Homo sapiens: one gene and its partners. The protein of the gene in region 1 interacts with the protein of each later gene in a pairwise test. Each region holds a gene or a part of one and is shown in the gene's direction. Other genes may lie near its edges. The genes, in order: CCDC57, PRPF18, USP15 and PRDM6.

What was found.
Region 2: the proteins of CCDC57 (region 1) and PRPF18 interact in binary tests that used the Homo sapiens proteins (3 or more experiments, as listed by UniProt).
Region 3: the proteins of CCDC57 (region 1) and USP15 interact in binary tests that used the Homo sapiens proteins (3 or more experiments, as listed by UniProt).
Region 4: the proteins of CCDC57 (region 1) and PRDM6 interact in binary tests that used the Homo sapiens proteins (3 or more experiments, as listed by UniProt).

Annotation. Positions count from the first base shown.
Region 1 is NC_000017.11:82,167,825-82,174,852, reverse strand, and holds part of CCDC57 (coiled-coil domain-containing protein 57), read left to right. Parts: intron 1-1,992; coding exon 1,993-2,215; intron 2,216-2,999; coding exon 3,000-3,152; intron 3,153-7,028. UniProt on the Homo sapiens protein: Pleiotropic regulator of centriole duplication, mitosis, and ciliogenesis. Critical interface between centrosome and microtubule-mediated cellular processes. Centriole duplication protein required for recruitment of CEP63, CEP152, and PLK4 to the centrosome.
Region 2 is NC_000010.11:13,603,962-13,610,989, forward strand, and holds part of PRPF18 (pre-mRNA-splicing factor 18), read left to right. Parts: intron 1-1,669; coding exon 1,670-1,783; intron 1,784-6,077; coding exon 6,078-6,224; intron 6,225-7,028.
Region 3 is NC_000012.12:62,410,376-62,416,889, forward strand, and holds the end of USP15 (ubiquitin carboxyl-terminal hydrolase 15), read left to right. Parts: 3' UTR 1-6,014; downstream 6,015-6,514. UniProt on the Homo sapiens protein: Hydrolase that removes conjugated ubiquitin from target proteins and regulates various pathways such as the TGF-beta receptor signaling, NF-kappa-B and RNF41/NRDP1-PRKN pathways.
Region 4 is NC_000005.10:123,092,241-123,099,268, forward strand, and holds part of PRDM6 (putative histone-lysine N-methyltransferase PRDM6), read left to right. Parts: intron 1-6,986; exon of another isoform or gene 6,987-7,028. UniProt on the Homo sapiens protein: Putative histone methyltransferase that acts as a transcriptional repressor of smooth muscle gene expression.

The DNA of each region.
Region 1 (7,028 bases):
GAAGGGGAGGGGAACTCAAAGGCAATAATTCTACAGAAGTAAAAACATGCAAGAATCAAAAGAAGCAAATGGTTACAGAGCGATAAACAATTTAAAAGACAAATGGTTACAAAAAGCAACGGTACCAGGTGCAGGGCTCTAAATCCTTCATTATAGTTAGACATAGATGCTATGCCGGACACGAACTCAAGGCTTTATGTTGTTATCTCTTTGAGAAGAATCCTGGGAACTTCAGACGTTGTTGGTGCCAGTACCTTATCAGTTAATTGGGCTCCTTTGAAATGCTGAGGATCTGCTTACACAGGTCAACTCCTTGCGGAAGGGGGTTGGGTAAGGAGCCCTTAGTGTCTTGTAAATTAAGGGGTCAGTTGGAGTTTGTCCGGCTTTCCCAGCTAGAGAGAGTCTTATTTACATGAGAAACAAGGCTAGGTGATTAAAGAGACAAACAGGGCAAAATTTAAAGTAGCGAGTTAGAGTAAAAACAGGGTTAGGCATCGCACTGTCTCCGTTTCTAAACTGCCAGTTGAGGTGCAGGTTCTGTTCGCATCCTCTCCACCCCTGAGCGCAGCGTGTGAAGCTCTCCTCCTGGGAGCCCAGGCCAGCTGGCCTTGCCAGGGAGCACGGAGGAGCCAGCGGGCAGTCAGAGCGTCCTGGGAAGGGCCCAGATCTTGCTTCAGGTTTGTGTTCATGGAGTGCAGAGTAGGGAGCAGGCTCTGCGTCCCTCAGGGTGGCTCCACAGGAGAGGAAGCTGTGCCTTTTGCACACATCTTGGCTGGACTCAAGGTTGAGTTGGGCCAGACCCTGGGACTTTGTTTCCCTCTCCCGTATCTGGGGTCTATGCTGGCGTCTGGAAGCAGGTGTTTCCTCTAATGTGTCTGGTGTTCTAGTTGTTCACAGCCGCAGGGAAAGACTCATGGCAGTGAGTCCCTCCTGGTCAGAGGCAGAAGCGCCCCTCACCTTTGGTTAGAGAAGGACACTCCCTCTCCCTAGGAACTGGGTGGGCGGGGCCTGTCTCTCCTCCTGCACCGGAGCCACCTCACCTCGTTGTCCTCCCGCCTTGGTGGCTCCTTGCGGGGTCTGTCATCCCTATGCCTGCCCTTTGACCCTAGGGTAACATGTCTCTTTTCTCGGGTTGCTTTTAGAGTTTCCATTTTGTTGCTGATTTTTCAGCAGCTTGATTATGTGCTGTTTGGTATGATTTTCTTTCTGTTTATCCTGCTTAGGGTTCACTGAGCTTCGTCATCTGTGATGTCGGCTTTCAGCTCATTTGCTTCGTCATCTGTGATGTGTGGCTTTCAGCACATTTGTAACATGTCTGGCCTTGTTGTAGACGCGTCTCCTGTCTTTGCGTTCATCTGGGCTCCTGGTTCCTTGTGCACCTTGTTCATGGTCTCCAGAGCTCTGCTCATTTTTTCTTCTTTGGCACCTTTCCTTCTGAGCTTCAGTTTGGGTATTTTCTGTTGCCAGGTGTTTATATTCACTGCCTTTTCTTCTGCGCGCTCTGAACCTGCTCTTCATCCTATTTAGTGGATGTTTGATTGTACTAAAGTATACATAACGCAAAACTGGCTGCTTTAACTATTTTTTGGTGCACACAGTTCAGCAGCATGAAGCGCATTCACACGGAGGTGCAGCCATCACACCACCCTCTCCAGAACATTCTCATCTTTCCATACTGAAGCTCTGTCCCCAAGAAACACTGGCTCCCCCTCCCCGCCCACAGCCCCAGCACCCCCATTCCACTTTCTGCCTCTGTGGATTGGACACTCTAGGGATCTCAAAAGTATGAAAGGCTCCAGGAATTTGAGTGTCATATTTGCACTTCTGTCAGAAAGGAGGGGCATCACAGCCTGGGGATGGGGAGGGACCACAGCCCAAGCTGAAGCGGGGGACCGGCCCGAGAGGGGCGCGGGGAGAGCGGAGGCACAGCCTGTCAGGACAAGCTGGGGAACCATTCATCTTTTTGTAGCCATTTTTCCTTGTATTTGACAGATGCTTCTCAGGCAGCATGAAGAAGAAATAAGTAAAGACTTTCCATCCAGTGAGATCCAGCGGCTCCGAGAGCAGAACACGAGCTTGCGAAACGCGATTGCCCAGATGAGGAAAGAAATGGAGGCTCTAAGCCATCAGATTCCTCCTCCCATCCAGACAGCGGCAGAGAGCACAGATGCAAACCAGCCTGACCCAGAGGCTGGGGGAGATGCCGCCACTCCTGGTGAGTAAGTGGGAGAAACGGACAGAGCGGGAGAGGAAGGGGGAGAGGGAGGGAGGAGGACAGACGGGAGCATGGGTCTTGACTGGCTTCAAGGAGGCTTCATTTCAGAGTCCTATAAGTTAACATCCCCTGTAATAAACTCAAAGTATGAAAACTGCTTTTTCTCCAAGAGAAGGGATCTTAAGTTTTATACCAAAAAGCTTTTATATTTGTAAAGTGGAAGGAAAAAATGAGGGTACCTGCTTGACACACTTAAAAACCTGTTTTAGACCTGGACCAGGGCTGGCTTGCTGTCGCGCTGTCCCAGAATGGGTTGGTAGCAGGGGCTGGTGGACCTCAGTCCTTTCCTCCAGAGGAGCGTCTGTGGCAGAGCTGATGAGGGCCTCCCGACCCCCAGGGACCCCATGAGTGGCTGTGGGTGGGCAGATGCCGGGATGGAGGCAGAGCTTCCGTTCTCGAGATGGGACTTGGCCCCTCTGCACAGAGGCACGTGGGCTGGCGGCAGGTGGAGCATTTGCTCCTGATCACTGAGCCCTTCCTGGAGAGCATGGAGACTGTGCTGGTCTCTGGCTGGCACACTCTGGCCAGTGAGGGGAGGGAAGGTCTTTCAGTCTGACACACACAGAGAGTGTGGAAACTACGGTGAAGCTGTAGTGTGAGGAGGACAGGGACAGTGAAGCTGGCGGGCATGAGCTGGCATCGGCTCCCTGAGCTGGTGCTCACAGGAGGGAGGTGCGAAAGGATGCTGTGTATGTGTTATATTCACTGGAGGTTTTTTTGGCAGATTATGTTCTGGCCCTTGAAGCAGAAATACGAACTCTAAAGCATAAGTTTAAAACTCTGGAAAAGCATCTAGAAGATGTGTTGGATCCTTTAAAGATGTCCTCACCTCATGCTGAGTCTCAGCCCAGCGTCCGCACCTCGACAGAGACGACTGGTAAGTCCGCGTCTCAGTGGGGTACTTGCTGTCCCCTTATAAACTGAAATCTGACCCCTGCAAAAGTCCGCTCATAGCAAATATACAGCTCAAGGCTACTGCAGACGTTGGGGCGGCGTCATCCAGCCCAGCAGCCCCTTGTGCTCCCTCCAGAGCCCACGTGCCCTGGCTCCTCACTGCAGTCAGCGTTCCCTGTTTTGGTGTGAATGGAATTCCTTGTGCTCCCTCCGGAGCCCACGTGCCCTGGCTCCTCACTGCAGTCAGCGTTCCCTGTTTTGGTGTGAATGGAATTCCTTGTGCTCCCTCCAGAGCCCACGTGCCCTGGCTCCTCACTGCAGTCAGCCCTCCCTGTTTTGGTGTGAATGGAATTCCTGGAGCTACCTCCAGAGCCCACGTGCCCTGGCTCCTCACTGCAGTCAGCGCTCCCTGTTTTGGTGTGAATGGAATTCCTCGCGCTCCCTCCGGAGCCCACGTGCCCTGGCTCCTCACTGCAGTCAGCGCTCCCTGTTTTGGTGTGAATGGAATTCCTTGTGCTCCCTCCGGAGCCCACGTGCCCTGGCTCCTCACTGCAGTCAGCGCTCCCTGTTTTGGTGTGAATGGAATTCCTTGTGCTCCCTCCGGAGCCCACGTGCCCTGGCTGCTCACTGCAGTCAGCGCTCCCTGTTTTGGTGTGAATGGAATTCTGTGGCACCTGTGCTTCTGTCTGGCGTCTTCAGACCTACACTGTGTTTCACTTGATAATGCCAGATTCTTCTCCAAAGCATCCATCCACATCGTGCGAGGTAGCCGTGGTGCTGCATGCGCGCCAACACTTACGTGGTCAGCGGCTCCTTCTGTTCCCTCTAGTGGACACGTAGCACATCCTATTTTGGTTTAATTTGCAAATTCATGAGATTCGTGGGATTGAACATCTCTTCCTGTGTGCATTGGCGTATGATTGGCTAGGGCTGCCGTAACTCAACACCACAGCCTGAGTGGCTTAAACAACGGTTTTATTTTCTCACTTCTGGAGTCTGGATGTCAGAGATCAGGTTGCCGGCAGGGTGGGTTCCTCCTGAGGCCTCTCTGTGGCTTGCAGACGGCACCCTCTCCCCTGCGTGCTCATGTGGACTCTCCCCCTGCGTGCTCACGTGACTCCTCCCCCGCTGCATGCTCACTCCTGGTGTCTCTTCCTCTTTTTTTTTTTTTTTTTTGGGACAGAGTCTTGCTCTGTTGCCCAGGGTGGAGTGCAGTGGCATGATTTTGGCTCATTGCAGCCTCTGCCTCCCAAGTTCAAGCGATTCTCCTGCCTCAGCCTCCTGAGTAGCTGGGATTACAGGTGCATGCCACCACGCCCGGCTAATTTTTGTATTTTTAGTAGAGATGAGGTTTCACCACGTTGGTCAGGCTGGTCCCGAACTCCTGACCTCGTGATCTGCCTACCTGAGCCTCCCAAAGTGCTGGGATGACAGGCGTGAGACACCGCGCCCGACTCTTCCTCTTCTTGTAAGGACAACAGTCCAGGGCCCCAGCCTTAGGACCTCATGTAACCTTAGCTGCCTCCTCAGAGGCGCTGTCTCCAAATACAGTCATGTTCGGGGTGAGAGCTTCAACCCGTAAATTTTGGGGGGCAGAGCTCAGTCCATAGAATTGGCCTTTCGACAGCCCCTCTTTTGGAGCTCCAGGCCATGTCTTTTGCCCATTGTTTATTGGATCATCTGCCCTTTGTCATAGATTTTTTTAGGGTATTTTATGCTGAATATGAGCCTAGCGTTGGTTATATGTGTTGCAAATATCTTCTCCCAGTCTATGGCTTGCCTTTTATTCCTTCACTGGTGTCTTTGGTGAATGGAAGGTCTTAATTTCAAGACAAACTCATAGGCTAATCTATTCCATTGTGGTTAGTCCAACATCAAAAGGTTCATTCTAGCATTCTAGCTTTCTTTTTCATTATTCTAACTTCCTTTCCCAATAATGAGAAACCTGGCTCGCCCATTATCACTAACACAGTTACTTTGATCGAGTCCTCTTGGTGTAACCAATCCCCCATTGCTGCTGTGGCCCCTTCCCCTATTTGCAGGCCCCTCTCCTGCCTGGATGCCTCCCCAGCATCACCGAGCTTGACAGCCCAGCCTGGCTGCCTTCCACACAGATGCCTTCACCCTGCTGGAGCCACAGCCCCCCTTAGTGTAGGGGAGGCAGGCCCCATCTGCAGGCCTAAGGCAGGAAAAGAAAGGGAGGGGCCAGACAGGACACTCCACTGGCACAGATTGTCTCAAATAGGGGAGGTTTTTGCCGGGCGCAGTGGCTCACGCCTGTAATCCCAGCACTTTGGGAGGCCGAGGTGGGTGGATCACCTGAGGTCGGGAGTTTGAGACCAGCCTGGCCAACATGGTGAAACCCCGTCTCTACTAAAAATACAAAAAAATTAGCTGGGCGTGGTGGCAGGCACCTGTAATCCCAGCCACTTGGGAGGCTGAGGCAGGAGAATCACTTGAACCCAGGAGGCGGAGGTTGCAGTGAGCCGAGATTGCACCACTACACTCCAGCCTAGGTAACAGAGCGAGACTCCATCTCAAAAAAAATAAAGTAAAATAAAATAAGGGAGGTTTTATTTTTCTTTTCCAATGCTGATATTGTTTACTTCTTCTTGCATTATCGCCCCTAGCTAAACTCTCCGGTATGATGTTGATAATAGCTGTCTTTCTCCCTAATCCCAGAGGAAGAACTTTCAGCATTTCACTTTTTTAGGTTGAGTTTTTGCTGAAGGTTTTTTGTGGTGGGGGTAGTGGAGGGAGGTTAAGGAAGTTTCTTTCTATTCCTGTTTTAATATAGATCTTTATTTTTTAAATCACGATTCTTTGTTTTTGTTTCATATATTTTGTATCTTTGTTGTTAGATGTGTATACATTTAGGGTTTTTTTTTTTTAGGATAATTGACCCTTATATTGTTACGTAATCTTCCTCTTTGTCTGGCAACATTCTTTGTTCTGAAGTCTACCTTGTCTGATATTAATTAATCCACTCGGGCTTTCTTTTGATTAGCATTCGCGTGGTATAACTTTTTCATCCCTTTTTCTTTTTACCTACCTCTCTCTTTTATATTTGAAATGAATTTCTTGTTTTTTGAGACGGAGTCTCTGTTGCCCAGGCTGGAGTGCAGTGGCACAATCTCGGCTCACTGCAACCTCTGCCTCCTGGGTTCGAGCGATTCTCATGCCTCAGCCTCCAAAGTAGCTAGGGTTACAGGCATGTGCCACCATGCCCAGCTGGTGGCGTTTGTATTGTTAGTAGAGACAGGGTTTCACCATGTTGGCCAGGCTGGTCTCGAACTTCTGGCCTCAGGTGATCCACTTGCGCTGGCCTCCCAAAGTGCTGGAATTACAGGCGTGAGCCACTGCGCCCGGCCTAAAGACAAAAACTGTTGAAAGCACACAGAGAGAGCGATGCACAGCCCACAGGGGACAGTGACTGGAGCGGTAGTGGGTTCTCAGCAGCAGCTGTCATCAGATTTCTCCTCAGAAGGAAGTGGCATAATATTTTTCAAGTACTGAAAGCAAAAAACTGTCAACCCATAATTATACATTCAGTAAAAATATTCTTCAGGAATGAGAGTGAATAAAGACATTCTCAGATGAAGGAAAAGTTTGTCACCAGCAGACTGGATCTAAAAGAACTGATAAAGGAGGTACTTTAGACACAACAGAAGGAAGGAAACTAGGAATGTCAGGAGTGAAGGAAAACTAATGGCAAGGATGAATATGATAGACATTCTTTCACACTTAACTCTTAAAATTACGTTGACAGGCCGGGCGCCGTGGCTCATGCCTGTCATCCCAGCACTTTGGGAGGCCAAGGCAGGTGGATCACCTGAGGTCAGTAGTTGAAGGCCAGCCT
Region 2 (7,028 bases), on another chromosome or scaffold:
TATTCTCTGTAGTTTCATAAAGTGGAACTGGGATAAATGGGTAGAAGTTTGGGGGAAGTAGATTTCAGTTTTGAGAAGCAAAACATCTCTGTCTAAACAATGGGATGGGATGTTTCACGAAGAAATGTGATTCCTGCCATTTGTCAGCCAGGGATCTGACAAGGGTGTTTGTGAGGTCATTTCTGCATTGATTGGAGATAGCACTAGATGACCTCTTAAATTTCTGTTTTAATCTCAAACTTCTGTTAATCCACTGGGAGCCCTCTCAATGGATTTTAGGTGTGATGCTATTTATGCTCCCAGGTAAAGCTCTTGGTGTTTCTCATTATTGCTTTATTTAAAAAATTTGGACTAGTATTTATTACGTTTTCTGTTTCTTTCTTCCTTTTTAAAATGACATACATAGCATGTATATAAAGTGTATGAACCATGTTAGGGCAATATATGTTTGTTACACATATATGAATAATTATAAAATAAATATTCATGTAACCATCACCCAAGTTTGGAAATAGATTTTCAGCATCTTAAAAGCTCTGCATATGCAGATTATAACTCCCTGTTTTCTGAGGGAGAAGTTTTTGGTTTCATGGTGGTATTACAATGCAGACTGTCCATTATGGTAATTATCAGCTGGCTTCAGATTTGATTTTCCTTCTCTCTATAAATGCTGTCATTCCCTCCCATCTTAGTGTTTTTCCTGTGTGTCCTGCCACACAGATTGGTCCTATCGAAGCAGTGAGCTAAACGACCTAAACTTTATGGTTACTTAAGGTGTGATGGTAACACAGTATATCTGTTTATGGAAAATTAAAAGAATAAACAGATTACTTTTTTCATCTACATTTCAAAACAAGTGTTTGATCACCAAAAATATGCTGACATAAGGGATTACTATTGTCTTTCCATTGTTTTTAAAAGAAGACTAAGAACAGTTATAATTATGTAAAATGAGGGCCACAGACATGCCCCTTTTCTTACAAAAAAGAATTTTTTAAAAATCTCACAGTAAAAGAGGTGGTTTATATTAGGGTCTTTCTTTAGACTTGAATTGTAGAGTCATAGGTCAGACCACTTTCTAGGAGCTGTTCAGTGATAAAATTAATAACAGTGACTTTTGAGTCAAAATAGATTTTTAAAGTACTTGATTTTCTCTTTGATTTGGAAACATCTTTGTTTAGCTTAATTGAAATGATCTAAAATATTTGAAGGATTTTATACTTTACACAGAGGCATGTATTTGGATAATTAGCTTTTATTAAACCCAGGCTTGGCTTTTAAGGTACAATATACAAATTGTTTTTGAGATGTTTAGTTTTTTCCTCTCTCAAAAGTTTAATAGCTGGGCACATTAGCTCACGCCTGTAATCCCAGCACTTTGGGAGCCCGAGGCAGGCGGATCACAAGGGCAGGAGACTGAGACCATCCTGGCCAACATGGTGAAACCCCATCTCTACTAAAAATACAAAAGTTAGCTGGGTGTGGTGGCGGGCGCCTGTAGTCCCAGCTACTCGGGAGGCTGAGGCAGGAGAATCGCTTGAACCTGGGAGGCGGAGCTTGCAGTGAGCCGAGATCGCACCACTGCACTCCAGCCTGGGCAACAGAGTGAGACTGTCTCAAAAAAAAAAAAAAAAAAAAAAATTTACTGGGTATCTGTTTCACTTTGTAGGTCATCAGAAGATTGAGAGAAAGAGGAGAACCAATCAGACTATTTGGAGAGACTGATTATGATGCTTTTCAACGTTTAAGGAAAATAGAGATCCTCACACCAGAAGTTAACAAGGTAAGAGGACAGAACAAAGCTAGAAAAATACCACTGTACTGCATTCACTAGAATAGAGTTTGACTAATTGCATTATTGTAGGCAACAATGGAAAAGTAAAGTGAGCAGATTATTGCTGCTGAATGGAAGTTTTCATTAATTTTTTGAAAAGCTCATATCTTAAGTATAACATTTAATGCATTTTGACAAATACATACAAGCATATAACCATTGCCCTTATAAAGAAATAGAACATTTTCGTCACCAAAGAAATTTCCCTGAGAGCATCAGGAAGAATAGCGAATGGATGCTGGGCTCAATAGCTGGGTGATGGGATGATCTGTGAAGTAAACCACCACGACACACGTTTCCCTATGTAACAAACCTGTCATCCTGCAGCTGTATCCCTGAACTTAAAAGTTGAAAAAAAAGAGAAAAAGGAAATTTCCCCAGTACCCCTTCTCAGCCTATCCTCATATTTCTCCTCATCCCTTCCTGGGCAGCCACCATTTGAATTTTGTCATCATGGATTAATTTTGCTTGTTCTTGTATTTCATACAGATGGACTCATAGATTGTGTGTCTGGCTTCTTTCGCTCAGCATATCAGTTTTTAGGTTCATCCATGTTATTGCAGATACCACTGGTTTCCTTTTCATTTTCCAGTGATACTCAGTTGTATGAATATATCAAAATTTGTTTCCAGCTTTGGGCTATTAGGAATAAAACTGCTGGCTGGGCGTGGTGGCACAAGCCTGTAATCCCAGCACTTTGGGAGGCTGAGGCAGGTGGATCACAAGGTGAAGAGATCGAGACCATCCTGGCCAACATGGTGAAACCCCGTCTCTACTAAAAATACAAAAATTAGCTGGGCGTAGTGGCGTGTGCCTGTATTCCCAGCTACTTGGGAGGCTGAGGCAAGAGAATCACTTGAATCCGGGAGGTGGAGGTTGCAGTGAGCTGAGATTGTGCCACTGCACTCCAGCCTGGCGACAGAGTGAGACTCCTTCTCAAAAAAAAAAAAAAAAAAAAAAAAACAGGGATAAAACTGCTATGACCATTCTTATGCAGATCTTTTTTTGGAACTATGTTATTTTTCTTGGGTAAATAAATAGGTCTCTTGGGGAGATACCTAGAAGTAGAATTGCTGGATAATAAGAGTAGATGTATGCTTAACTTCATAAGAAATGCCAGTCATTTCCAAACCCCAGCATGTGGTATTGTTAGTCTTTTTAATTTTAACCATTCTCTTTTGTGTCTGGTAGTAGCTCTTTGCGGCTTTAATCACATTACCTGATGACTAAAGATGAGGAGCATCTTTTCATAAAGTTGTGTTCATTTGTGTAGTGTCTGTTAAAGTCTTTCTTTCCTTATTTATTTATTTTTTTGACACAGAGTCTCACTCCGTCACCTACGCTGGAATGCGGTGGCATAATCATGGCTCATGGCAGCTGCAACCTCCTGGGCTTAAGCAGTCCTCCCACCTCAGCCTCTCAAGTAGCTGGGATTACAGGCGCTTTTTGTTCATTTTAAAAATAAACTTGTCTTTTTGTAAATGGATTATAGGAATTCTTTGTATATTCTGGATAGAAGTTCTTTGTCAGATATACGAATATTTTTTGTGACTATTTTCTTGTAGTTTAGGGCTTACCTGTTCTCTTAATTGAATCTTTTGCTGAACAGAAGTTTGTGTGTGTGTACACACACGCTTTTTGAGACAGGGTCTCACTCTCACCCAGGCTGGAGTTCAGCATGATCATGGCTAACTGCAACCTCTAGCTCCTGGGCTTAAGCGATCTCCCACCTCAGCCTTCCAAGTAGCTGAGACCACAGGTGTGTGCCACCATGCCTGGCTGATTTTTTAATTTTTGTAGAGATGAGGCCTCCTCATGTTGCCCAGGCTGATCTTGAACTCCTCTACTCAAGGGATCCTCCCGCCTTGGCCTCCCGAAGTGCCCGGGCCAGAAGTTTTATATTTTAATGAAGTCCAATTTATTGTTTTTTCCTTTTATGGTCATTGCTTTTTGTGTCCTGCTTAAGAAATCTTTGCCTATCCCAAGATTTCAAATATATATTCTTAATTTTCTTCTAGAAGCTTAATATTATAGTTTTTGCTTTACATTTAAGGCTCTGATCTTGTTTTATGGCTTAGCATATGGTTTATTCCATGGGCTCTTGAAAAGAGTATTGTTTTGCTTTCATGGTACAGTTCTACAAATGTCAGTGATGATAGTGTTGTTCAGATCTTCTTTGGCCTTGCTAACTTTTTATCTACTTGCTTTCTCAATTATTGAGAGACAGGTGTGGTTACCTATGACTATGTAACAGACTACTCCAAAACTTACTAGTGTTTGTTTATTTATTATAAAGGATTTATCATTACCAAATCTGTTTTTGGTGATTAACAAGCCACCCTGAAACTTGATAGCTTAAGATAATTTGTTATTGTCTTAATAATTACCAGTTCTGTGGTTTTATTGGGCTGGATTGAGCAGTATCTTGCTTGGGGTCTTTATTGTGATTGCAGTCAGATGAAGGCTGCGGCCGAAATCATGTGAGGCTGCCTCTGGACTGGTCTTCTAAGCTGATATCTTGCCCCTTTCCTGGCGTCTCAGTTGGAATGGCAGGAACAGCTGGGGCTGGCCAGGCCCGCTCCCCGACCTGCTCTGTCTGCTAGCCTGGGCTGTCTGACTGCTTTCTTTGTTGCCAAACCACTTTCCTGCTTTACTTCCCAGCATTGTCATTCCAGCCCCACAACACTAGCAGTTGCTTTCAGTCCTCTGTGTCTGTAATGATCATTTTTCCTTTGCTTGCTGTGTTTCTGCCTTGTATGCTCTGGTTGAAATCTTGTTTTTATACTTTCACATGCAATTCAGTGACCACATCTTCTCTCGGAATCTATTTTTGGTCCCAGTCAGAATTAATTGCTTCCTTCTCCATGTGCCTATGAGTAAACCTTTGTTAGTGTACTTACTGTTTTTCGCTATTATTAGAGTTATGTGCATATTTATCTCTTCCTGGTGGGCAAAGGCTGTTTTACCTTTGTATGCCAAGTCCTGTGCCGTGCATCTAGAGGTTTTGAGGACAAAGCACAGGAGCACAAGGTCTGGATTCCATTCCTGGATTATAGTAATCAATTATTTGGCCGTTGGCAAGTCTTTTACTCTATTTGAACCTTAGAATCTTCATTGGTAAAACAGAGGCAGTGATATTTGGCTCACTGGGATGCACTGAGAATTCGATGAGGTGACCTCTGGGAATGCCTGGCGTCATACTTTTTACACAGCAGGTGATCAGTCAGTGTTTGAGAAATTATAAGTGTTTTGAGTTGAATGTTTCTCTTCTGTGTTTATGAAGGGACAGGAGACAATGATCAGATGCTTTTTGTGTGAGAACGTTAGGAGTTAACATTGGTTGAATGTGCACCGTGCTCCAGTAACTGTTCAAAGCTCATCGTCCATTTCTTAGCTTACTTGCGTGACTTGATGTTTGCGAGGTTCTGGAACAGCTGCATCACATAGTAACTGTTCACTGAAATAAAAAATAGCATCCTTATTACAGCCCTACGTAGTAGATGGTGCCATTACTCCTATTCTGTAGGTGAGTCTACTGAGGCACACAGGGGTTAAGCAAGCTTTCAAAGAGCTATTTAATAGTATGTGGCAAGGATTTGAACCCAGATAGCTTTTACTCTCAACCATTACCCTATAGCCGCCTCACAGCCATGTTTCCTTGGCTCTTAAACCTTGCAGCTGATTCTCATTCATTTTTAGGAAGATGAGGCTTCCATTTTCATTAAAGGGTCATGAACCATATGTGCATAAAATGCGAATTTGCTGGTTTGCTAGAAACATAGTTGAGAACCTGGGATATAGATGAGGCACCAATTTTATTACACTGATGTTTCTGAATGTTTTGGGAGTTCACAGTAGTTGAGGTTAGACATTGTAAATGAGCTGGGCAAACGGGTTGGGGACTCTAATGGAGACCTGCCACTGTCACTAAGCCTCATTAGAAAATTACAGCATTGATGAAGATTCTTACTTGGATTTGTCACTCACGTGTATTTTATTTTTCTGACCAGCAGACTGGCCATTGTTTGTGCATTGTTTTAATTTAAATAGGTCCGTAAGAATTAACTTTAAATGGACAGTAGTGATAGTTGTGTGATAAATTGATGTGATTTGAGTCCCTACTTTTGCTGAACTCTTCTTGTGGGGGAAAAAATATTTGCAGTTATTAATGAAAAATCAAAGGTGAAAAAACAGGTGTTCTTCCTTTCATAACAGGTGTTCTTCCTTTTTTTGCTTTTCTTAGGGATTGAGGAATGATTTGAAAGCAGCCTTGGATAAGATTGATCAGCAGTACCTCAATGAAATCGTCGGCGGTCAGGAGCCTGGAGAGGAAGACACACAGAATGATCTGAAAGTTCATGAGGAAAACACCACAATTGAAGAGTTAGAGGTAATCTCTACACCAAGCCCAGCACATCCCTGGCACCCTTCTTTTTCCTCTGGAGCAGATGACTGAGTCGGGCAGATTGTTGAGGGCAGAGCACACTGTTGTCCTTGGTCTTTTGTTTATTTACTCCTCGCTTTTATTTATTTACTCCCCTTTTTCTCATCCTCCACTCACATTCCCCTACTTCCTGCCTTCAAAAGGAACCCATTCTAATATGTTGGATATGCATCTTTCTGTTTGTTGGTGCTCTTGTGACCTGCAGTGTTTTGTGAGCATGTATTTTTGATTTACATAAATGATGTTATGCTGTGAAATTCTTTATTCCGTGTTTTACTTTTCTTTTTTTCAGTTAGCACTATGTTTTTAAGAGCTATCCTTGATGCTCTGTGTACACTGAATCCTTTGCTTTTAATTGCTACATAGGATTCCATGTGTTACGCCATTCACTGCATTTGACTTTTTGTTCTCCGGTAATGATGGACAGCTAGATTGTTCCCAGCTCTCTCCTACCACAAACAGCTTCCTGATGAACAGTCTTGTGCATAACCACGATGGCCTAGCAAAGTGGGATTGTGGGATTTATATATGTATATTTAACTTGTCTAAGTACTGCCAAGTTACTCTCTGGAATGGCTGTCCTAGTCTACACCCAGCAGTGTGAGGGTCCCCTGTCTTTCCAGCCCTGCCAACGCTTGGCAATATCTTGCTGTCTGATTTTTGCTATAGTGCTGCTTTTGGAGTGTTAGTGTATAATCTTAATTAAAAAGCAATTTTGTATCATGTAAGTAGCATGTAAAATAAATATGG
Region 3 (6,514 bases), on another chromosome or scaffold:
CAAAAAAAAAGTAAAGATGGGAAAATTACTTATAGTATTTTTTTTTAATTTGAGAAAGAATTCCTGTAGGTCTCCCTTAAATAGTGACTTTGGTAAAGCTTTTTAATTTCTAGAACTCAGAGCTATATTCACTTTTGAGCTATGTACCTATTGTATAAGTTGAAGTAATACTGCAAATTCAAACAGTAAACATCATTAATCCTAGATATTTGGGTACTACCTACAGTGAGATATGGTAGGAAACATTCTACACTTACAACAACTTCCACCATAGCTAGCTCCAAACAGGTCATTAACCTCTGAATTACTGTTTTCACAACCATAAAATTATGCTGGTCTCTTGAAAGTATTAGTTTATGGGTGTGGAGAGGAAGGCTTAAATTTCATTTTTGAAGCTGTCGTTAAAAGTATATATTTTTAGCAAAGGAATTAATAACTAATAGCATTGATGAGTCAAGTTAATATTTGTTTTTGTTTTTTTTTTTTTTTAATTTTGGGCCTCACTCCTATAAAAGACTTGGAACAGAAGTCTTAGTATGATGGTAAACTTGAAAATTAAAATTTTATCAGGGATATTAGAATCCAATTATATGAGACTGCATCCTCAACAGGCACCTTGGTTGCAACACCATGAAAGACCTTGATCCAGAGGTTCTCAGCAAGCCACACCTGAATTCCTAACCCACAAAAACTGTGAGATAACAGATGTTTGTGTTTTTAGCTGCTAAGCTTTAATTTGTTTATGCAGAAATAAGGGAAAAGGACCCTAGAGATCCTTGAGGAATCCCACTTTACAGATGTAGAAGCTGAGGGCTAGAAGGAGAAAAGTCATGTACACAAAGTCTGGAGACAACTCAGATAGTCACTACATCCTCTTGCTCTTTCTCATTTTTACTCTTTAACTGGCTCCTCACTTTTTAGATGGATGGCACTGGGCTCTGGAGCAAACCATCTGTTCTGTATCTGTTAAGGCCTCTAGAGCTTCATTCATTCCTTCATCAAATATTTTTTGAGTGTCCACTATGTGCCAGGCACTATTCTAGATTCAAGATATAAAGTAATATACAAAAACAAAATCCAGTTACAAATATAATTTTTAAAGCTATTTGTGAGCATAACTTCGTAACACATTTAGAACCTTTGCCTTCAGCTGACATGAATTATGTTGTCTTTTTGTTTTTTGGTCCAGTTTCATTAGTCATTAAAGTCATTTGAATTAAAGACAATAATCCAGACTCCAGAGGTTATGGCTTTTATGTGTTTGGATACTGTCATAGTCTGCTCAGGCTGCCATAACAAACACAGACTGGGTGGCTTAAATAACAGAAATTTATATTTTCACAGTTCTGGAGGCTGGGAATCTGAGATCAGGGTACCAGTATACTGGGTTTCTGGTGAGGGTGCCTTTCCTGGCTTACAGATGGCTGCCTTCTCACTGTGTTCTTGCATGGTAGCAGAGGAGGGTCAGAGAGGAGAGCAAGCTCTGAGGCATCTCTTTTTTATAAGGGCACTAATCCCGTCATGAAGCCCTCACCCTCATGACCTCATCTAAACCTAATTATCTCCTAAAGACTTCCTCTCCAAATACTATTTAAGGCTTCAACCTGAATTTGGAGGTGACACAGTTGAGCCCATAGCAGATATATTTAGTAACAACTGTGGGTACAGGCATGCCTCAGATATTGCAGGTTCGGTTCCCAGCCACCATAAATATTTAAATAAAGTGAGTCACAAATTTTTTGGTTTCCCAGTGCATATAAAAGGCATATTTACCCTATACTGTAGTCTATTAACTGCAATAACATTGTGCCTAAAAAAGATGTACATGCCTTAATTTTCAAACTATTGCCAAAAAATGCTAAATAACCATCAGAGCCTTCAGCAAGTAGTAATGTTTTTGCTGATGGACAGTCTTGCCTCATTTTGATAGATACTCACCAGGATGGTGGTTGCTGAAGGTTAGGGTGGCCGTGGCAATTTTTTACAATAAGACAGTAGTGAAGTTTGCTTCATCAATTGACTCTTCCTTTTACAAGAGATTTCTCTGGCATGCAGTGCTATTTGATAATATTTGATACCCACAGTAGAACTTCTTTCCGAACTTCTTTCACAATTGGAGTTAATCTTCTAAAGCCCCGCCACTGCTTCATCAACTAAGTTTATGGAATATTCTAAATCCTTTGTTGTCTTTTCAACAATGTTCACAGCATCTTCACCAGGAGAAGACTTTCCCCCCTTCTTTTCACAGATGTTGAGATTGTCAAGAAACTACTTTCCTTGCCCACCCATAAGAAGCAACTTATCATCTGTTCAAGTTTTATCATAAGATTGCAGCAATCCAGACACATCTTCAGGCTCCACTTGTAGTTCTCTTGCTATTTTCACCGCATCTGCAGTTACTGCCGCCACTGAGGTTTTGAACTTCTCAAAGTCATGAAAGTTGTAATTAACTTCTTTCAAACTCTTGTTAATGTTGATATTTTGACTCCCATGAATCACAAATATTCTGAATGAATGGCATCCAGAATAGCAAATCCTTTTCAGAAGGTTTTTATTTTGCCCAGATCCATCAGAGGAATCACTATCTATGAAAGCTTTTGCCTTATAAAATGTATTTCTTGGATGATAAGACTTGAAAGCTGAAGTTATTCTTTGATCTATGGCTGCAGAATGGATGTTGTGTTAGCAGGCAGAAAAACACTAATCTCATACATCTCCATAGAGCTCTTGGGTGACCAGGTGCACTTGTCAATGAGCAGTAATATTTTGAAAGGAATCTTTTTCTGAGCAATAGATCTCCGCAGTGGGCTTAAAATATTTAGTAAACCTTCCTATAAACGGATGTGCTACCATCCAGGCTTTATGGTTCCTTTTATAGAGCAAAAACATTATATTTAGTTTAATTTTAAGGACCCTAGGATTTTTGGAATGATAAATGAACATTAGTTAGCATTGCATTGGCCCCTAACAAGAAATCAGTCTCTCGTTTGAAGCCAAGCATCAACTTTTCTCTAGCTATGAAAGTCCTGGATGACATCTTCCAACATAAGACTTTCATCTACATTGAAAGTTTGTTTTTAGTGTAACTACCTTCATCAATGATCTTAGCTAGATCTTCTGGATAACTTGCTGTAGTTTCTACTTTAGCAGTTGCTGCTTCACCTTATGCTTGTCTGTTGTGGAGACAGCTTGTTTCCTTAAACTCCATGAATCAACCACTGCTAGCTTCAGACTTTTCTTCTGCAGCTTCCTTACCTTAGCCTCCATAGAATTGAAGAGAGAGGGCCTTGCTCTGCGTTAGGCTTTGGCTTAAGATAGTGTTGTGGCTGATTTGATCTATTAAAAAAAAAAAAACTCAGGCTTTCTCTATACCACTTTTCTTATGATTCATGTGTTCACTTGAGTAGCACTTTTAATTTCAGGAACTCTTCCTTTGGATATACAACTTGGCTGTTTGGCTCAAGAGGCCTAGCTTTCAGCTTGCCTTGGCTTTCAACATGCTTTCCTCACTAAGCTCCAATCATTTATAGCATTTGATTGAGAGAGAGAGAGAGATGTACAGCTCTTCACCTGAACATTTAGAGGCCATTGGATGGTTATTAACTGGCCTGGTTTTAATAGTGTTATGTCTCAGGGAATAGGGAGGCACATGGAGAGGGAGAGAGATGGGGAATGGCCAGTGGAGCAGTTGGAACACACACGTCTGTGCCCTCAAACAAAACAGTAACATCAAAGATTACTGATCACAGATCACCGTAACAGATACAATAATAATGAAGACATTTGAAATGTGAGAAGTACCAAGATATGACACACACACAGTAAGCACATTCTGTTAGGAAAATAACACCTATAGATGTGCTCAATGTAGGCTTGCCACAAGCCTTGTTTGTAAAAAAACAAAAACAATTATCTTCAAAGCATGATAATAAAGTGAAGCAGAATAAAACAAGGTATGCCTGGTTTTTGTTTTGTTTTGTTTTGAGACAAGGTCTTTCTCTGTCACCCAGGCTGGAGTGCAGTGGCACAATCTCATCTCACTGCAGCCTCCAGCCTCTGGGCTCAAGTGGTCCTCCCACCTCAGCCTCCGAAGTAGCTGGGTCTACAGGCATGTGCCACCACACCACACCTGGCTAATTTTTGTAGAGACCAGGTTTCACCATGTTACCCAGGCTGGTTTTGAAGTCTTGAACTCAGGCGATCCATCCACCTCGGCCTCCCAAAGTGCTGGGATTACAGGCATGAACCACAGCACCTGGCCATGTATTTTCATTTAACCAGTACTAAATAACTACATGTCTTTGGCAGCCTATAATGTAGCATCCCATTTTTAAAAATAGAAGTGTGTATTCAGGGTGCACTCAATAGGATTACATCTGGCTGGCAGTCCCTTCCTACTTCAGTCCATTATCCTGCTACCAGAATGATCTTCATGGTTTCATTTAAAAAAAAAAAAAATGAGATCCTGTTTCTGTCTTAAAGTTCTCTTCTAATTCCTTGTATTAATCAGGATTCTCCAGAGAAACAAGACCAATAGGATGCATATGTGTATACACATATATGTATAGCTCTCTCCCTCATATATACACATATCATGTATATACATATATATCATATATGTACATATATATATATATATATGAGGGAGAGAAAGATTTATAAGGAATTAGTTCATGCACTTAGGCTGAGAAGTCTCATGATCTTCAGTCAGCAGGCTGGAGACCCAGGAATGCCAATGGTGTAGTTCAAGTCCGAGTCCAAAGGGTTGAGAACCAGGAAAACCAATGATAAAAGTTCCAGTCCACAAGCTACCTGGCTAAAGACCCAGGAAGACTGAATGTTTCAGTTTTAGTGCAAAGGCAGGAAAAGACTGATGTCCCAGTTCAATCAGGCAAGAGAAATTATCCTTACTTGAGCCTTTTTTGTTCTATTCAGGCCTTCAATTCATGAGAGCCACCAACATTAGAGAGGGCAATCTGCCTTACTCAGTCTACTGACTTAAATGTTAATCTCATCCAAAAACACCCTCATAGATATGCCCAGAATAATGTTTGACCACATATCTGGGCACCCTGTGGCCCAGTCAACACATTAAATAAACCATCACATCCCTTCATGTAGAAAAGAGTGGTTTGGACCATAGGCTCAGGAGTTAAACCACCTCTGAGCCTACCACTTTTGTGCAACTCACCTCACCTCTCTGCCTTTCACCTCTCTGTAAACTAGAGCAGCTCCCGAATGTCCATCTAGGAAGGCTTGGGGTGAGCAACCTGATTAGAAGGGAACAATGTGACTTAAAACTGCATATTTGCTTAGCAAACCTATGACTTTTCTCAGAATATACAGTTTGCTTGTGATGGAGGGCTATTAATATTTATAAGGAAACCAAATCCCCATTCACTTAAGCCATCCACTCCTACCACTGTAATTGAATATTACCTACCTTTCAGAATAATTGCAAGGTTTTGTGTCTTGATCATTATGAAAAATGTGGCAGGTATTATTACTAATAAAGAAGTACCCAACTATGGGAATGATTGTTCCTTCCTTATGAATGAGAGCAGCTCTCTGTTCAATACGATTCATACTCAAGTTCTAATAAACTTTCTTTAGCAAGAGAGCAAAGAGTATGGTACAGTCAGTCCACCCAGGTTGCCTGTTAACCTGGTGCTTGAAGGAAAAAAAGTAAGAATTTGCCCTCATCTAATTCCTCACTTGCCCTCAAACATGTCATACTACTTGACAATGGGGCTTTCCCACATTTGTCCCACATTTGCATGGTCTGCCTTATCTCTTACCTGGCGAACTCCTACACTCCTTCAAGACTTGCTCCAAAATGCACTTGCTAGATCTTCTGACATCAACTGCCACCTTGGGCTATAAGTTACGTGTGTCTCTTCCCCCACTAGACAATTACCTGATGGAAGAATATTGTTCTTAAGATGTTAAGATGGTGTATGTGTGGCATAGTATTTGTTCCTAAATGTAAAAGTTATTAAACAAGTTTTCTGAAAGTCTGAAGCTTTATTGTGTTTATTGTGATTGTGTTGTATTCCTGACATGTTGCTGGCTACATATTTTAACAGCTTTAAAAGTAATTTACCTTATGAATGTGCACTAAAAACGTACATTTTAGATATACTAACATTTTAAGTTCGGTATTTATGAATTTGGAATATTCAAGATTAAATGTAGAAAATTTATATTTCATTTATATTTTTCTAAAGAAGTTTTAATTGTAAGGAATTCTTTTTTCCAGTAAGGAAGATACAGTTGCTATCTCTTGCTCCAGTTGGAGGGCATCCTGAATTCCCATTTGTTCAGACGCTTTTCACAACTTGGAGCTTCTGGCATCTCCACAAAAATAATACTTTGACTACACAAGGCCAGGAATACTTTTTTGAGTTGGGGATACCCCAAACATTTATCTGTTCAATACAGTTGTCCAAAGACAAGGAATGTACTCTTGATTTGGGTTCTTTGTCACCTCAAAAATCTATATTACACCTTAGAC
Region 4 (7,028 bases), on another chromosome or scaffold:
GCAAGTATTTTAAATTATGAAATAAAAAGATTTTTAAACTGCCTTGGAAAAGGTATGTCTTACTGCTAAGTGAAATATAGCCATTGCAGGCTGAGAATGCTTCATCAATCTTGCAATTTCACTTCTGAATTAAATATATGCTAGAGAAGTCACCAGCAGTACACCCCAAATCCCTGGCTGTGTGCTGAGCTCCTGTACTGTTTACAATGCAGTCTGGAAAATTAATACGTTTTCACCAGAGAAAACAGACTAATTCGAGAAAGAATTAGGATAGATTCCTAATTAATATATGGGTATTGAACCAGTTTATTGCCTGGGTAACTTTTTTCTCTGGTTGGAGAAAATAAATTACAATTTTATTTAAATAATTTATATTGTGTTAATCTTCTGGTATCTCCTTTTGAGCCAACTGGATTGTTTCAGTGTTTGAAGTGCAGGGGAAAAGACAGAAGGGAAAGAAAATTAGATTGTCCTATTAGAGTTACACCCCACGTTGCTCACTAATTAAAGGGCAATTGAGAAAGAAAATAGAAAGCTGAGATAGCGCTGTGTAATGCTGGGAGACGAGATCTCCCATTCTTCCAGGAACTTCTCTGGACAAGCAAGCTTAGGCACTCATTTGAAGCCATGGGATGTACTTTTACAAAGATGAAACGTGATTGAGTTTAATCTAAGTAGGGGCTTAAAACAAGTCAGAAATGCAAATAGTGGGAAACTCGTTTCCTTTGGCAGGGGAAGTTGGCATAATGGTTATTGAAAGGCTGTGAAAAACAGAAGCTTCTCCTCATTCTCGAGTTGTATGTGAGTGGAGGTGGAGTGAAAGGAAGGGTGGAGGCAGAGGGAAGCTCCTATTAATTTATCATGTATAGATTTCCCTAGTTTTTCTTTTAGTTTTTTTACCATCTCCCTCTAAAAGAATTCTGTGAAGTGACCACTTAGCATTGCTTCATTTTGTCACTTCGTACTTAAAAGGATAGGTATTGAGTTGTTTTCTCTTTTTCTCACAAGGCGAAATAAAAAGGGCGGGATGCGGGGGTGCCTCCTTACTTCTCCCTTCCCTTTAGCAAAGTAACTTTTTGCCTAGGATCAGCAATACATATCATTGCTCTGTAAGAAAAGAACTTAGGAACACTAGTTTCACCTTGAAACTTTATTGGCATCTATGGTAAATGTCACAGTGATGGGGCTTGTAGCTCTCTTTCGTTCTAAAAGATTTTAAAACAGCAGAAACTGCAAGCTACCCGGGTGAGCTTTTCCAGTATGTTCCTAACTCCGTATCAGTTTACCCTGTGACTGAAGTACAGTTTCCACCGAAGCTCTGAATGCTTTGCTGTTGCTGCTGCTGCCGCCTTCTCTTAAAAATCAAGTGGTGCCTCCTGCGATATAAATGGGGGATGGGGCCCTTCCTTCCCCGTCTAATATTACTGCCCTCATTTGCTGCTGGGCTGCCTGAAGCCATTGATTTAGTCAGGCTCCATCGGAGTGGCCTCTTCCCGGGTTCTGGGAGCTGGTGCGTTGCCTGCTCTTGAAAAGTAGAGAGAGACAGTCACAGGGCGCGCCTGGCGTTTCTGAGTAGCATCCCGGCTGTTCTCTCAGCACAGCCCATTAGTTTTTCAGGCCTTTTTTGTAAAGATGTGCTTCCCTAGGACCTGGGAGGGAGGCGGGAACTGAGCCACTTTGGGTGTCTCGGGGGAGAGTTGGACCACTTTGCAAATTCCCCAGTTGGGGGAGGGGTCTCTGTCCCCTCCCGATTTACTGGAACCCTCCTGCGCAGGGAACAGGCTGGAAACAGCGCCGGTGTGTGCATGGGTGTGGGAGCGGGGCTTGAGGCTTCCTTGTTGGGAACACCAGGCTTTCCAAGGGTTTAGGGAGAGGGGCTGGGGAGAGAAAAGGGAGTCTGGGCCTAACACTGGTTTGTCCGGTTGCTTGCTAAGGGGTCAAGGAAAGAGACAAAGGAGGGCGAGTGTTTTCTGACCTTCCCTAATCCCTTCCCACCCAGGTGGAAAACGCAGGTCCTGTTTGGGCAACTTCGAGCCCAGTGGCACACCAGCAGGCTTTTTGTGCAACCGAGGAACATCCACTGCGCCCCTTCTGCCCTGCGCCTCCTCTGTCAAAGACCAGCGAGCGCCTTAGATTGCAGACCTGGTCCGGGTGGGAGGGAGCTTTGGCTTCAGTGCGTGGGCTTTTGTGTTTCTCTCTCTCTCTCTCTCTCTCTCTCGCGTGTGTGCAAGCCCAGCCTCATCCCATAACACACATGATTTAGCTATTTTACATCTTTCGTTATCTAGCGCCCTGAAACCGAACATACAGCCATATATTAGATTGAGGTTAGAAGAGGTGGCGACTGTTTATTCAAGGTGATAAAATGGTCCATCAGCAGTAATCTCCATCGATATGTGCCACCAGGAGATGAAGGATGAGGGGACAAGCCACAATTAATTGCCCTATAGTTTTGTAGGAGAGAGTGGAGCCAGCCCAGACCCGCTTCGATCTCCTCTCGCGGCTCCTATTCATCATCTCCGCATTGTATATGGCAGCCTCGCAGGGGCAGGGGCCGGCGAGGTTTATCTCTGCGCAATATTCTCTCACCCTCACAAACTGGCGCTCCCATTTAATTTATTAATACAGTCATCGGAAGACAAATAAGACCCACATTTTCTCCCTCCCACCTTCTTGCTCTCTTCTTTTTGTCTCTCCCTCTTGGTCCCAGGGTCAAGCCCGCAGCCAGGCAGGGCAGAGAACGCCCAGAGCTTTTGCGATTCGCGGGGAGCTTTAAACTCGCGTAGAGGGAGAGTTCCTGAGAGAATTCCCAGGAGCTGGGCCGCCCCGCAGGGTCGAGACTGAAATCAATTGGCTCCCCTTCCGGCGGCCAGGCAAACCTGCCTCGCCTCTGGATCTGCTTCTAGACCCGCTCCCGGGGCTTGGAAGACCCCTGCCGGGTAGAGGAGGAGGGCCGGGTGGGTGGCGGGGTGCAGTGGGGACGTCGGATCGTGGGTGGTGTCGGCGGCCACGCCTCATGTCAGAAGAGAGCCTTTCGTGGGCAGGAGCGGGGTGGGACCTTCAAAACTCAGCCTTCGGCGCTGAGGCCTGGGCGCCCCACCCCGCCCATCGCTCCCTTTCAGCCATCCCATCTAGCCTATAGCTCGAGAAGGCAGTGGGGGGACCGCAGGCTGGAGCCCCGGGGGCGTGAACCCCACGCGAGAAGTTCGGGCCCGGATGCTCTGCCTGCCCGCCCTCTGCCCGGCTCCCCAGCCCCCACGCCCCTCCCCGCCTAGGGCGCACGCGGCACTGCCAGCAGGCGGCACTCCCGGGTCCTAGTCGCCGGGCTGGGATCGATGGGCGCCGGCCCCTCGGGTCTCGGCCTGCGAGACTGAGGGCCGCGACCTTGGCGGCGGTAGGGGAGGATTTACAGCCGGGGTGGATAGTGGCGCCCAGGCGGGGAAGCAGGCTTTTCACCTACTCCTTGCTTTCCTATATGCAGGGCGGGTGAGAGCCAACGAAGGCGTCGGGCAGGTACTGGGGAGTGAAGATGTGATGTAGCTCTCACTCCCCACGCGCCTACACATGACTGTTGGCCTCTCCACACACCAAAAGCCCGGAAGCGTTTTATATTTCACCTTTCCTAGAACGAGAAATGAAATTCCAGAAAAGAAAACCATGGCCTGCTTTGCCGCCTTTACCTTAAAATAGATATATTGTAAAGATCTATTGCACTTTAAAGACATTGAAACAACACAGAAGGATAGGAAATGAAGAGTGAAAGTCTGCTCTTAACTGCACTTGGCCTGGCCTTCTGATGCCAGGAGGCGAACAAGTCTGTAACCTAATGACAGCACCTTCCTTTACTCAGAGACGCTTAGACAGGAGCATTGACAGATTTACTCAAGATAGAAGAGTATTTATGAATAACAATTATGAACTTGTACAAAAACTCTTCCCCTGATTTTAAGAGAAAGTATGAACATTTACTTGCTTCCTTGTTAGGAACCTAAGTAGTTGTATTATGTATTGCTTGGCTTGGAATGCTCTGTGTGTGTATATATAATATAATGACATATATTATATACATTTATACATAGTTTGGTCCTCTCATATAGCCTGCTTCTCTTTCAAACCTTTTCATGTAGGTGTTTATACTCTGCTAGAATGTTTGTCTTCTTAAGCATATTTGTCAATCCCAAGAAATGTTACTTGTTTTTAATATCCTCAAGCTACCCTGAGACTCAGACATAAGTTAGAACCCAAATGTTTCAGCTGGGGGATTTTGTGTATTAAAAAATAACATTGGAATATAACATGTATCTTGATGGCAGTTGGTCAACTTTTCTGGCAGAATATTTTGATATAGCATGAAGTGGTTCACAAATTAAGAAGACCCCTGTTGGGTGGACTAATTAAAGTTGATTGACTTTGTCTAGCCTGCTGTGGACCTAACACACAGATAGTCTTCTAGATATTGGGAGAGCCTCAGTTTTTCACTTTTAATAGTAGCATAATGCTACTATTAAGTTTTTCAACTCTTTATGGAGACAAATGAAACAATAAGTTGAAGACGGCTTTAGAGGACTTCTTGGAGAAAGGCCTTAGCCACAGTTTTATTATCATGCATTACAAATATTAGAAGTGTGCTTTTTGTCTATGGAGGTAGTGGCTGGAGTTGGTACCTATGCTGATGTCGTTGATGGGATGACACGTGTGGAGAAGCATGTTGGAAGTTGACTGTCTCTGGCACAGGCTGCTAGGGAATGAAAACTAAACACTCTTCTGACCATTTGCATCATTGAGTCAAGCAGAAAAAAAAATCAGTTAAGTAACTCCCTGGAGTGACTTATTTCTATTTCCATGGGCATATTGCCTTTGCTTATTGTCATTTGCTTTTAGCTATTTTTGCAAAGGTGCTGAAAGGCTGTCTCTGAAGTCAGACAGTAACATTCAAAATTATAGACATTATCTATGTATTTTCCTATCCAATCTCTTACTTTAATGTCCGAAAACACAAGAGTGTGGGAAAGAGAGAAACCTCTATAACTCAATCATGCTACAGCAATTTTCATGGCCCCCAAAGTTACTTCAGTGAAATATTTCAATTCAATTGAGTCATGAGTTTGAATGTTAAATTTCCCCAGCTTTCATTAGTCTTTTAAAAATCTCTGGGTTTAGAGGCCTTGCAGTCAGGCAGCCTTGACTGTGAATCCTTTCTCTGCCACTTTCTAGCTTCTGGTTCTTGGTGGAGTAGTAGTGCTTGGGAATTGCTTTATCTGCAGAATGGGAATCATGATACTTAGATAATATGCTGGTTTTTGGTTCTAGACAGGTGTCTGACACATGGTATGCACTGTAATTGTGTTTATTGTCTTTCATGTAATTCCCAAAATGTCTTGAAGTTTTTATTTTCACAATCAATAAGCTTGAGAGGGTGTGTGAAGTGTGTGTGTTTCAGAGGAGTTGACATATGGATAAGTGTGAGAATACTCCCATCCAGGCCCTGGGGTCAAAAGCAGAGTCTGGGAGAATTTTAACAATAGTTTGTGTTGCTGGCAGAGGAAGGACAGAAGAGGGCCTTTGTGCAAGGGAGGCCCAGCGGCATGGACACTTCTCTGCTTTCCGAAACAAGTTGTTGCTTTTCACTTCAGAGGTCTGGGGACATTTCTGAGAAGCTTGCAGCCCTCATTCTTCCAGCTCTCTTGGGAGGAGTAGAGGAGTAGCTGCTGACTGAGGCAAAGGTTTGGCTGGCTAGAGCCCCCTCCAGTGAGACAGGAGGCTTACATAGTCAGCCCTCCTTTGCTGTGAAGCAAATGGCAAATCGAGGGCTCCCTTACCATGCTGGGTTGCGATTAGCTGTTCCTGACACAAACGTTTCATACAGACTCACAAGTTTCTTGGGCATTTCGGTCATTTCAGCGCAGATAGGGCACATCCAGGGTGATCCAACAGGCCTGGCTGCGGCCAAGGCTGGCGGCGGCAGGTACCCGGGTGCCCCGAGGGCCACCCGCCGCCCCGCTCTGGCGCATCCATCAGTGGCCAGCTTTCACCGTGTCTGCCAGGCGGGACTCGCCAGGTGTCAGGCTCAGTGCCATAAGCCTGACACTTGCGCGGGGTCGCCGTGGCTCCTCAGGGAAGCTGGGCCAAGGAGGCTGGGTCGCGCCGGCGGGCGCCGAGGCCACCTTCTCGGGGCAGGCCATCCGCGCTGAGGCGCAGACACGGCGGCTCCTCCAGGCCCATTAATAACCCGGAGGGCGCTGCGATCCGACAGCGCAGTCGCCACAGGCTCTATTTCCCGTGGCCGCCTGCCTCCTTCCAGCCCAGTTCGAGTGGAGGGATACTGGGCGCCCACTACCGCCCGGCCCGGAGGGTGGGGGTCCCTCTCGCGCAGGCTGCTTTGGAGAGTGTCGGAGAGAGACAGCTTTATCTACAGCTTCACCCATTGTATAGCACAACAGAATCGCATTTAGCCTGGAGAACAGCCGTCGGGGCAGGAGTTGGTGCCTTCTCTAACAATTAGGCTGATCGTTAAATTTGCTATTCCTTTCTTCCGGCGTCTAGGGAGAGCGTGCACACCAAACCCTCCAGAACAGCACCCCGGTCCCCCACCCCGCCCCACCTGTCCCCGCCCTGCTTCAGTGCCTGGAGGGAGAACTGACTGGTCGCTTGAGGGACCCCATTTCGGGCGCGCCCTTGGAGTCCTGGGGCTGCGGCTCCTGCTCTACCGGGCTGCAGGCTTGCTCTGCCCCGTCCCGTGGCGTTTGGGAGGCAGTCGAGGAAGCCTCCGAGTCTCTGGGTCGAAGGAAGTGCGAATGGCACCCGCGATAGACTGGCCGTCTCCCCCACCCCGCCCCGTCTGGTGATTTTAAATCGTCTCCTGTGTAATTGTAAAAAGAGGAAAGCTGAATACCCAGACGACCAGTATAGAATCTCTTCGAGACAGCAGATTGGGCAAGAGACGGGCTTTTTTTCGCAATACAAGGATAAACACATCCTGAAACTCCAGATAGAAACCTCAGGAATGGGCGAGAGGGTCAGAAGGAACG